Regions from separate parts of the Homo sapiens genome. Here region 2 is linked to region 1. The links come from fine-mapping of genetic effects on gene expression. A gene starts in region 1. The other region holds a variant in brackets. All regions are shown on one strand. Distances are from middle to middle.

The links. PIP is the estimated chance that this variant, and not a neighbour inherited with it, causes the effect.
Region 2: its variant is the best candidate, but not a certain one, in a credible set for the expression of ZNF35 in whole blood (INTERVAL, PIP 0.76).

Annotation. Positions count from the first base shown.
Region 1 is chr3:44,645,507-44,650,889 of GRCh38, reverse strand. ZNF35 (zinc finger protein 35) reads right to left here and starts at 2,158. Exons shown (of 4, transcript NM_003420.4): 1 at 2,056-2,158. It overlaps ZNF660-ZNF197 (ZNF660-ZNF197 readthrough), which reads right to left. Exons shown (of 8, transcript NR_147692.2): 8 at 2,419-5,383. It overlaps ZNF197 (zinc finger protein 197), which reads right to left. Exons shown (of 6, transcript NM_006991.5): 6 at 2,419-5,383. The region is part of intron 2 of ZKSCAN7-AS1 (ZKSCAN7 ZNF cluster antisense RNA 1); the gene reads left to right. RefSeq lists enhancers at 1,676-1,785, 1,866-2,035, 1,914-2,473.
Region 2 is chr3:44,423,180-44,428,562 of GRCh38, reverse strand. LINC01988 (long intergenic non-protein coding RNA 1988) reads right to left here and starts at 641. Exons shown (of 4, transcript NR_144436.1): 1 at 405-641; 2 at 1-8. It also overlaps the pseudogene C3orf86P. RefSeq lists an enhancer at 3,580-3,719. The variant C/A (reference allele first, on the strand shown) is at 3,080.

The DNA of each region.
Region 1 (5,383 bases):
ACTTAGCAAATTTGCCGGATGCCACACCGGCAAATTTCACCAGCGCCTGGCCAGGGGCCAATGTAGGACATGGAATCCTCTATTCCTCCCTCATAGGATGAAGGGGTTGGACTATAAATATGTAATATCTTCCCATAATAACCACATTGCAAACAGCTTTATATAATGTTTATTGATTTTTTCCTGATTAAAAGTTAACTTACTTTTATTGTAAAAACTTAAAAGCAGCAAATGATTAAGAAAAATCATCTCGGTCTACCTCCAAAGAGATAACCACTATACATTTTAAGATTTAAGATATTTCTTTCAAAGGAAAATCTCCAACCATACTACTAATAATTATGATTTTACAAATTCTTGTTTTTGACTTTGGGGATACATATTTTCACAATTATCATCATAGCATTTTTTAAAAAAGGATTTTACAACAAAAAGATTTTTTATTGCCAAGGATACAAAATAATGTGAACAAAAGGATCCCAAGAAAAAGACTGGGAGTCTTTATACCAACGTGTTAGCAGTGGGTAGTTAACTCTGGATGGTGTAATTACAGGTAGTTTTAAGGTTCTTTTCATTTTTTTTGTTTGATTTTTACATTTTCCATAGCTTCCAAATGTCCTGTGAGATAAAATATTACACTTAAGATTTAAAAAAAGATTACTTTCATGTTGCCATTCTTCATGCTTATTTTAAATGCTACACAATAACCTATGGTGTTGATAAATCTTCACTCTCATTGAAAAAGGATCAAGTAATACAGAAATATATAGAATTAAATATATAACCTACACACACTACACACACACACACACACACACACAAAGTACTTATCAGTTTAGATGGGAGTCCTAACCCATTTTCTCTGCATTTACATACTTATATGTTCACCTTCACACATATTGCTTATTTTTCAAAAACATACTTTAGATCATCACAGTTATATACTGTTCAGCAACCTGCATTGTTTTTTAACTCAATTTCCGTATTTCACAATAGTCTTAACAATCTTTCAATACAACACATATAGAACTACCTCATTCTGGCATAGTATTCTAAATTGTGGCTATATTATCATTTACTTAATCATATTCTATTTATGAACCATTTATTTAGTAAAAGTTTATATTTCCATTTTATTAATATTTAAAAGTTTTTCTTTGTAAATATTTTTTTTTTGCTGAATTATTCCTTTAGAATAATCAGAGAATTACTGGTTCAAGGATTTGCTGGTTGATATGTACTGTCAAATTGCTTTCCAAAAGCACCATGCCAATTCACACCCCCACTAATTGACAGTAACCCTTTATCACAGCTAAGCCAGCAGGGTTTTTGTTTTTAACCTGTGAGCAAAATAACCTTACTAGTTTGATTGCTTATGAAGAGATTGAAATTTTTCTTTCTAACCCCCTTTGAATGTTTTATTGGAAAAGGGTGCGAAATCTTATTCAATCCCCTGTTGCTGCTATTGAAGTGATCATACTCTTTTCCCCATGTCAACTTACTGGCCACTTACTGTATACACTGAATTTATTAAGTAATGCAATACTTTCATTCCTGTGACAAACCTTAATTCTGGAGGACTATTCTTTCCATCACTATCCGAATTCAATCTGGTATGAAGGTCCTTAAGACTAGTTCCACCTTGTGTATAAGACTGCCTACAGTGAGTACTCTCATCAGACTTCTGATCAGATTCTGACGGACCTCCGGTCCCAGACGGCACAGGGCCCTCTATCAAAGGCTCCCTTTCAACGTCCTTTCTCTATTTCCAAACGTGGCAATCCATTCTTTCCACGTATAGGCTCCTCGCGGCCCTGTCCCTGGGACCTATCTGGCCCCTTGGCCGGTCCGTGTGCATCCTCTCCCGGACCAGGCCCCAGGTGGGCAGCAGCCGGGATTCCGAGGCGGTGGGGAACTCACTGCCCCCCGCACCCCGACAGACAAGGCTGGTGTCCCCGGGGAAAGGACGCAGGGGCCGCTCCTAGGGCCATGGCCCCTGGGAGAGCCCCTTTTTCTCCCTCGACGTTCGTGCCCACCCCCTCCGACCCCACTCACTGTGCGCAGCTGAGAAGCCCGACCTGAGTTCACTGGCTCTGCAGCAGGAGGCTGGCTGACCGGTACTTCAGCTTCTACCGGCACGAGAACAATGACCGGACAGGAAGTGCCTCGGGATGGGCTTCCGGCTCCCCAAGTCGCCAAGCCGGCCTCTCTAGGAACCTCGGAGGTGCTTTCCTCTCGATGGGTGTCCAATGTCGCCCCAGACCAGGGATGGGGCAGAAGCGCTTAGGAGGATTGTGCTGTTGGAAGCTCTAAGTGAGCCTCAGGGAGGGGCGCATCCCAAGCAGGGATGAGACACTCAGGCGAGGCGCGCACCCAAGAGCCTGAAGCTACACAGCATTAATCTGTAGAAAGCCCTGATAATTTCCCCTCAAATGTTTTATTTTGAAAATATCAGAGTACAGAAGAGTTGAAAGTATGGCACATTGAATACCCGTATTTTCCATGTGGACTCAACAATGAACATTTTGCTATGTTTGCCTGATCTCTCAATACATATTTAAAATCATTTTTTTGAAAGTTGTAAACATCAGAACACTTCATTCCAAATACTTCAACATGCATCCCTTAAGATTAAGAATATTCTTCAAACTACCACCACCGTCACAGGTAAGAAAATCAACAAAAATTCCCTAATACCATCTAATAACCAGTCATATTCAAATTTCCCAACTGTCCTAAAACATGTATTTTATAACTTTTTTTCAAATCAGTTTCACACACTTTAGTTGGTTACAGCTCTTTAGTTTTGGGTTTTCGTTGCCATTGTTGGTTTTTACTTTTTATTTTGAAATGATAGAATCACAGGAAGTTGCAAAGATAGCACCCTTCACCCACTTTCCCCTCATGGTTACATCTTACATAAAATGAAAAAGGAAATCAACATTGGTACAGTATGTGTGTATAGGTATAGCACCTATAGATTTGTGTAACCACCACTGCAATCAAGATACACAAGTGTTCCATCACCACAAAGACCTTTCTGGTGCTACCTTTTAATAGTTCCATCCAACCCTCTCCCCATTTTTCCTCCCACCATCCCTAACCTTTGGCAACCATTAATCCATTTTTCATCTCTATAGTTTTATCATTTTGAGAATGTTATATGAATATTTTCATACAGAATATGGCCTTTTGTGATTATTTTCACTCAGCATTAATTCCCTTGAAATTTATTTGAGTTGTTATGGATATCAATAAGTCAATTTTATTGCAGAGTAACAAGTATTCCATGGTAATACATAAACCACAATTTGTTTTAACCACCTAAGGAAGGATATATGGGTTGCCTACAGGTTTCGACCATTACAAATAAAGCTGCTATGAACATTCGTATACAGGTTTTTGTGTGAACGCAAGTTTTCATTTCTCTGGGATAAATGCTCAGAAGTGCAATTCCTGAAGCATGACATATACATGTGTGGTTTTACAAGAAACTGCCAAATTATATTCCAGAGTGGCTGTACCATTTTACATTCCCAGCAATGTATGAGATCCTGTTTCTCTTCATCCTTGCCAGCAGTTACCACCATTAAAAAAAAAAAGTTAAGCTATTCTGATAGGTGATATCTCACGATTTTACTCTGCATTTCCCTCATGCCTAATGATGTTGAACATCTTTTCATTTGCTTATTTGCTATCTATACTTCAGTGAAATGTCTGTCTTTTGCTTATTTTCTAATTGTATTTACTTATTACTGTTAAATTTGGAAAGTTCTTTATGTAGTTTACATACAAATCCCTTGTTGGATATGATTTGCAAATATTTTTTCCCAACCTGTAATATCATCTTTGTAAAAAGGTCTCTTACAGGGTAAATTATCTTAATTTTGATGAAGTCCAATTTAACATTTTTTTTCCTTCTAAGGAGCATGCTTTTGAGTCATCTGAGCCTTCTTAGCTCAGTCCTAGGTCCTGAAGTTGTTGGTTTACTGCCTATGGATATCCAATTACTCCAACAGTATTTGCTGAAAAGGCGATCCCTCCTCCATTGAATTGCTTTTGCCCCTGTCAAAAATCAATTGGCCATTTATGTGAGTCTATTTCTGGTTCTTAGTACCTAACGGCTCTCTAGTATTATCTTTTAAAAACAAGCCTCCTCATCCATGTTTTATACCTTTCATATCGAAATTTTCATACATACACAAAAGCAGAGAATGGTATAATAAACTCACAGCAGACTCAAGACAGCTTGAACAATTTTCACTCCCCTCTCTTTTTCATCATAATAATATTTTGAAGAATCCAGGGCAGCTTTCTTATGCAATATTCCACGTTCTGGATGTGTCTGTTTCTCGTGGTGTCTTTTATTTGTTCCTCTGCCTCCTGTATTTCCTGTAACCTGGCAATGAGGTCCAAGAAGCTTGATTAAATTCAGGTTGAACATTTTTCAGCTTATTACATCACAGAAGGTGGCACATTATGTGGGCTGTCTCAATCTAAGCAATGTGACATTTTGTTACTCGGTGAAGAGGTAAATCACAGCATTCTCCATTGTTAAAGTACATATGTCCTTTGTAATTATTATATAAGCTGGGATGATTCAACAACCTGGATGAAACATTTTTATATTCATTATCTCATAAGAACTTTGTGAGGTAGATATTCTTCCTCCTGTTTAACAGATGAGGAATTCAAGGCTCCAAGAACTGAAGAGATTTTTTCTGAGGCAGATGGCAAAACCTGAACCACATCCAGGTCTTAAGACTTTAAGCCTTAGGCCCCTTCCAGTTTTCACTCTTGGCTACCTTTCACTCTAATGAGGAACCAGCCCCCAAGAAACTGTGGGGTTGAATTAATAACATTTATGATAATCAACACACCACTTTGACATTATTAAAAAACACAATCTTCATATTCAGGTATTATTCATAGTCCAGCTACAGAAACAGAACTTTGAGAATTACAACATAAAAATTACCAACTTAAGAATATAGACTGAGTTAAACCCACAAATGTACTCAAGGGCACAGAATGGTTCACAGGGGGTAATGGGCACTGACTGCCCACAAGTGGATTCTGCACTGGCTTAATCAGTGAAGAGCTTGGCTCCATGTGAAAAATTTATGTCCCAGTAAATTTAGTGCTGGGACAGAATGTTGTTTCATTAGTAACAGGCTATCATTTGACAGCAATGATGAAATATTGATTAGAATTCACAATGACTGTGGCAGGGATCATCAGCTCAACTGCGGGTCAAGGATTTTTTTCCCTCTGAATAGGGAAAGCAGGGTACCACTGCCCTTCCATTTTGACACTCTCCATCTGTTAAGTTTCAAATTCAAAAGCTGGGAAATAAATTGTTTTCCTTGGCATCACTGTTAAT
Region 2 (5,383 bases), 220 kb after region 1:
TCCATTTCCTATGAATTGATAGGTTCTATTAGTTTTTATTTATTTATTTATTTTTTGAGACAGAGTTTCACTCTTGCTGCCCAGGCTGGAGTGCAATGATGAGGTCTTGGCTCACTGCAACCTCCGCCTCCCTGGTTCAAGTGATTCTCCTGCCTCAGCCTCCCAAGTAGCTAGGACTACAGGCGTGTGCCACCATGACTGGCTAATTTTTTGTATTTTTAGTAGAGAGGGGGTTTCACCATGTTGGCCAGGCTGGTCTCAAACTCCTGATCTCAGGTGATCCATCTGCCTTGGCCTCCCAAAGTGCTGGGATTACAGGCATGAGCCACTGTGCCCGACCGGTTCTGTTACTTTTATAAGGCATGAAGGGATAATCCTTCCTGGTGAAATCTGAAAGTCCTTACCTTCTAGGTTACTGAGGTTTCGAGGTCTGGGCAGCCGATTGGCTGTCTGATGTGAGGTGGAGAAGATGGGCCTGGTCAAAGGGGCAGCCTTTGGATTGGAACTGGATGCCCAGTCTGTCTGGGAGAAGGAAGGCAGTGAAGGGAAGGACCACGAAAAGGAGTGGCAGAAGACTGGCAGTCCCTTCACCCCACAGCCCTCTGCTTCATTCTCTGGCAGCTGTCCCTGACCTTTGTGACATCGAGGTCCCAGCCAATCACAGCACTCACTCCTGCTGTCCCAACAGCCTCCAAGGCAAATCTCTGGAGACTCCACCCACTGAGCTCCTCCCCTGGGGTTCTCTAAGCACTCTGAATTTGTGGACAAAAGCCCCTTTACTACCAGCATAACTACATACTTCACTTTCACAAGTTGGCATGCCTGGGTGAGGGCAATTATTTTAGTCATATGAGCTTCGATTTCTGGGAGAGTCAAGTCAATTCAGTTTTTGAGAGTGCTCTATATTTCAAGGGTGAATTTATATCTGTTATTTTACTTTATTTATTTATTTTTGAGAAAGGGTCTCGCTCTGTCATCCAGGCTGGAGTGCAATGGCATGATCTCGGCTCACTGAAGCCTCCGCCTCCTGGGTTCAAGCGATTCTTGTGCCTCAGCCTCCCGAGTAGCTGGAACTACAGGCGTGTGCCTCCACGCCCAGCTAAGTTTTGTATTTTTGGTGTAGAGATGGGGTTTCACTATGTCGGCCAGGCTGGTCTCTAACTCCTGGCCTGAAGTGATCCACCTGCTTTGGCCTCCCAAAGTGCTGGGATTACAGATGTGAGCCACCATACCCGGTCAAAATTTTTTATTTTAAATAAGTTATGGAAATGATGAAAACATTTCATTTACAAAATAAATGTGGGCCGGGCGCTGTGGCTCATGCCTGTAATCCCAGCATTTTGGGAGGCCGAGGCGGGTGGATCACCTGAGGTCGAGAGTTTGAGACTAGCCTGGCCAACATGGTGAAAACCCATCTCTACTAAAAATACAAAAAATTAGCTGGGCATGGTGGCACACACCTGTAATCCCAGCTACTCGGGAGGCTGAGACAGGAGAATCGCTTGAACCTGAGAGGTGGAGGTTGCTGTGAGCCGAGATTGTGCCACTGCACTCCAGCCTGGGGACAGAGTGAGGCTCCATCTCAAAAATAAATAAATAAATAAAATTAATGTAGGAAATTTAGGAAGTTTGAATTATAAGAAATCTAATTTTGGTCTGGAATAAGCCAAAATATTGTACTAACATTTTTTAAAAAAATAAACTAATAAGGAGTGAATCATGCTAACATTTTCCTTTATTTTGAAGTTGGCGTCTTTTCTTTTGTCATAGCTAGTTTAAAAGGTTATCAGGGAAATACATTTTCTAGTGTCCATAAAAAATAGTTCAATAACTTTTTTCTTTAGACAATTTAGACTTTACCTGAACTAAAAATTCCTAGAATATATGCATAACGGCTGAATGTAATTTTTGTTAAGTCTTTCATTTTGTTAAGTTTTCAAAAGAGGGAAAAGGAGAGGAAATGGGATAGAAAAAAAATGAGAGGGAGCTGGCTTTAGACAAATAACTAATCATTTTTCTCTGTAAGAAGAGGGATGAAAGTTTAGACATATATACAATACACACACGAGAGTGTCCTATATCTGGTTTTGACATAATTTCAGTTTGTGACAATTCTATCAAGCCATACAATTTTTTAAAAGCCAGAATGTATTAATCTCCAACTTATGGAAAGGAAGGAAGTGATGCCTCCCTGTGAAACAAAATGATCTGTCATTTAGGCAAACAAGACAAAGATTTTCCTCATGAGGGGTCTTTTATTCTTGATATCCAGAGTCTCCTTAAAATGTTTAGCCAAGCCCAGGTGCAGTGGCTCATGCCTGTAATCCCAGCACTTTGGGAGGCCAAGGCCGGTGGATCATGAGGTCAGAAGATCAAGACCATCCTGGGTAACATGGTAAAGCCCTGTCTTAGCTAAAAATACAAAAAAAATTAGCCGGGCATGGTGGCGGGCGCATGTAACCCCAGCTACTTGGGAGGCTGAGGCAGGAGAATGGTGTGAACCCGGGGAGGCAGAGCTTGCAGTGAGCTGAGATCACGCCACTGCACTCCAGCCTGGGTGACAGAGCGAGACTCCATCTCAAAAAAAAAAAAATGTTTAGCCAAATATTGATGTTTATGCAATAGAGTGATTTGCCAGCCAACATTTTTGTTTACCCAACATAGTGACAGTTTTGGACCTGAAGCCTTTCACAAAATGTGGCAAGGGCATTGGAAATGTCAACATTTTAAAGATGCTTGGTCGGGCACGGTGGCTCATGCCTGTAATCCTAGCACTTTGGGAGGCTGAGGTGGGTGGATCACTTGAAGTCAGAAGTTTGAGACCAGCCTAGCCAACATCGTGAAACTCCATCTCTACTAAAAATACAAAAATTAGTTGGGCGTGGTAGCACAGGCCTGTAATCCCAGCTACTCAGGAGGCTGAGGCGGGAGAATCACTTGAACCTGGGAGAAGGAGTTTGCAGTGAGCTGAGATGGTGCCATTGCACTCCAGCCTGGGCAACAGAGTGAGACTCCATCTCAAAAAAAAAAAAAAGAAAAGAAAAAAGAAAAAAAAGATGCACATGAGGGAAAAGATGCT[C/A]CTATTTCATATTAGTTATAGCTAAAGAATATTTTAGAGAAGCATTTTTTGAGTCCAAATTGTGTTTAGGAGCCTCCTCATACCAATTAAAGACAGCAGACCATTGGATATTCAGAATTTTGCTTTGTTTTTGTTTTGTATATATCAGAGTTTCCCCAAAGTGATCACTATAATTCTAAATTATCTTTGGGGAAATTGTACCAGTTAGAAAGCTATGCACATGAAGGGAGCCGGTGTTTGGCCTGAAAGAGGCTGAGTTTTCGATAGAAAAGACTCCATGGGAACTTCAGCGTGTCCACAGGGTGGTACTTGTGTGACACTGCGTCTTGGAGCCAGCCAAAGACTAACCAGCATTCAGGGTTGTCCAAGGCTTGGAAGACAAAGCCCTCAAAGCACACTGATCAAGAGCTGGACGCCATGGTGGGGGCAATAAGCTCTTAAGCTTGCCAATATTCACAGCAAGGGGGTTTCCAAGATCAGCTGGGGGAAGGTAATGGAATGAGTTAGAGTTTCCTGGGGAAACTGCCCCTGTGTGGACCGAGGTGGAGAGGCCCTGGGGAGGAAGGGAGGAAGCACACCTGGCCTCACCAAGCACACTGCCAGAGCAGGTGAGCTGAGCCAGGGAGGGAAGAGGGGACAGAGGCTTCTCCTTCACCTTAGCAATGGCCTCATGCTACGGACAGGCCTGCAGCAGTCTCTGGGAAGGCCCAAGGCTACTAGCACCAATGGGGAAAGGCTGCTGGGCAAGCCCCTGGGGGCTGGGAAGGGATTCATTTCTCACTAAGCTCCAGCAGCCCTGTGGACTGCCCCACATCGGGTGGGCACCATCAGGCAGGTGAGGAGAGGAGAAAAGCCTGCTTGGGTGACCTGGGGCCAGCCCAGGAGGACGACTGTTCCATCTTCTGCCAGCACCATGGGCTGGCTCCATGGGACACACAGCAGCCGCTGGGTCCATAGAGTGGGGAACGTGGTGAGGATTCAAGGTGGGCCTGGGCTGGGCAGTCCCAGTAAGCAGCTGGTGACATGGGGAGCTGCATCTAATTCTCAGGGAGACCAGGGTGTGAAGAGGGTGTGAGGCCCAGCAAGCCAGACCCAGGGGAGTAGGGAGGGGATCACAAGATGTTCCTGATCCAGGTAGCCCTGGCTACCATTATACTGAGCACAAACCAACCTTGTCAGAGGACATTGCCCCTTGTTTATAAATTTGGGTTCTAGAAAAAAACCCCGATGCTGTTTTTTGGAGCCATGTGATGGGACTGCTGGAAACCAGGCAGGGAAAGGCAATGGCAGGCACACTTCCAGTTTTGGGGCATCAGGCACTGTGACAGCGAGGATGGTGCAGGGGTGAGTGGGGAGCTGCCCTGCAGGGGTCTGAGATCACCAGGCAGAAGCTAGGCTGGGATAGGGCGGGAAACGCATTACACAACAAAGATTAGATTGCAGGGGCCCCAGCCTTCTAATGCCCCTCCTGCTCTCTGAAGCTCCCTCCACAGACTCCTCCACCCCAGAACCTTCCGACAGGTAAGCTTCAAACCCTTCATACCTATCCAGTTCCCTAGCTCCTGGCCAGCCTCTAACTGTTCAGCCCCCGAACCCCCTGTTTCCACCCACCCTGAACCAGGGGATCTCTGCAGGTTGTGCTGACTCCCCCATGGCCTTGTGGCCACCAGGGGATGCTGGGGAAATCCTCTCCACCTGAGCAAATCAGAACTTCCTGTAGGACACAGGTGTCAGGATCAGCTTCTGGTTGAGCTGGTTGATATTCTAGGTAGCGCACCTTGAAGTTTCTCAGGATTGACAGTCATTGTGTCTGTTCTAAAGAAGGTGAAGGAATTTGATGGAAAGAAAGTAGGAAGAGTCGCCCAGACTTGCAGGCTGCCTCCTGTACTTATTCTGAGAACGTGTTCACATGGCATAGGCGTTTCCTTTTGTGGCCATTTGTAAGAATGGGAAATGAATGACTTTTTTTTTTTTTTTTTGAGACGGAGTCTCACTCTGTCACCCAGGCTGGAGTGCAGTGGCGTGATCTCGCCTCACTGCCAGCTCCGCCTCCCAGGTTCACGCCATTCTGCTGCCTCAGCCTCCCAAGTAACTGGGACTACAGGCCCCCGCCACCAAGCCAGGCTAATTTTTTTGTTTTTTTTTTAGTAGAGACAGGTTTCACCGTGTTAGTCAGGATGGTCTCAATCTCCTGACCTCATGATCCACCCGCCTTGGCCTCCCAAAGTGCTGGGATTACAGGTGTGAGCCACTGCGCCTGACCAGGAAATGACTTATTCTTACAAATGACCACAGGTGTGGCTG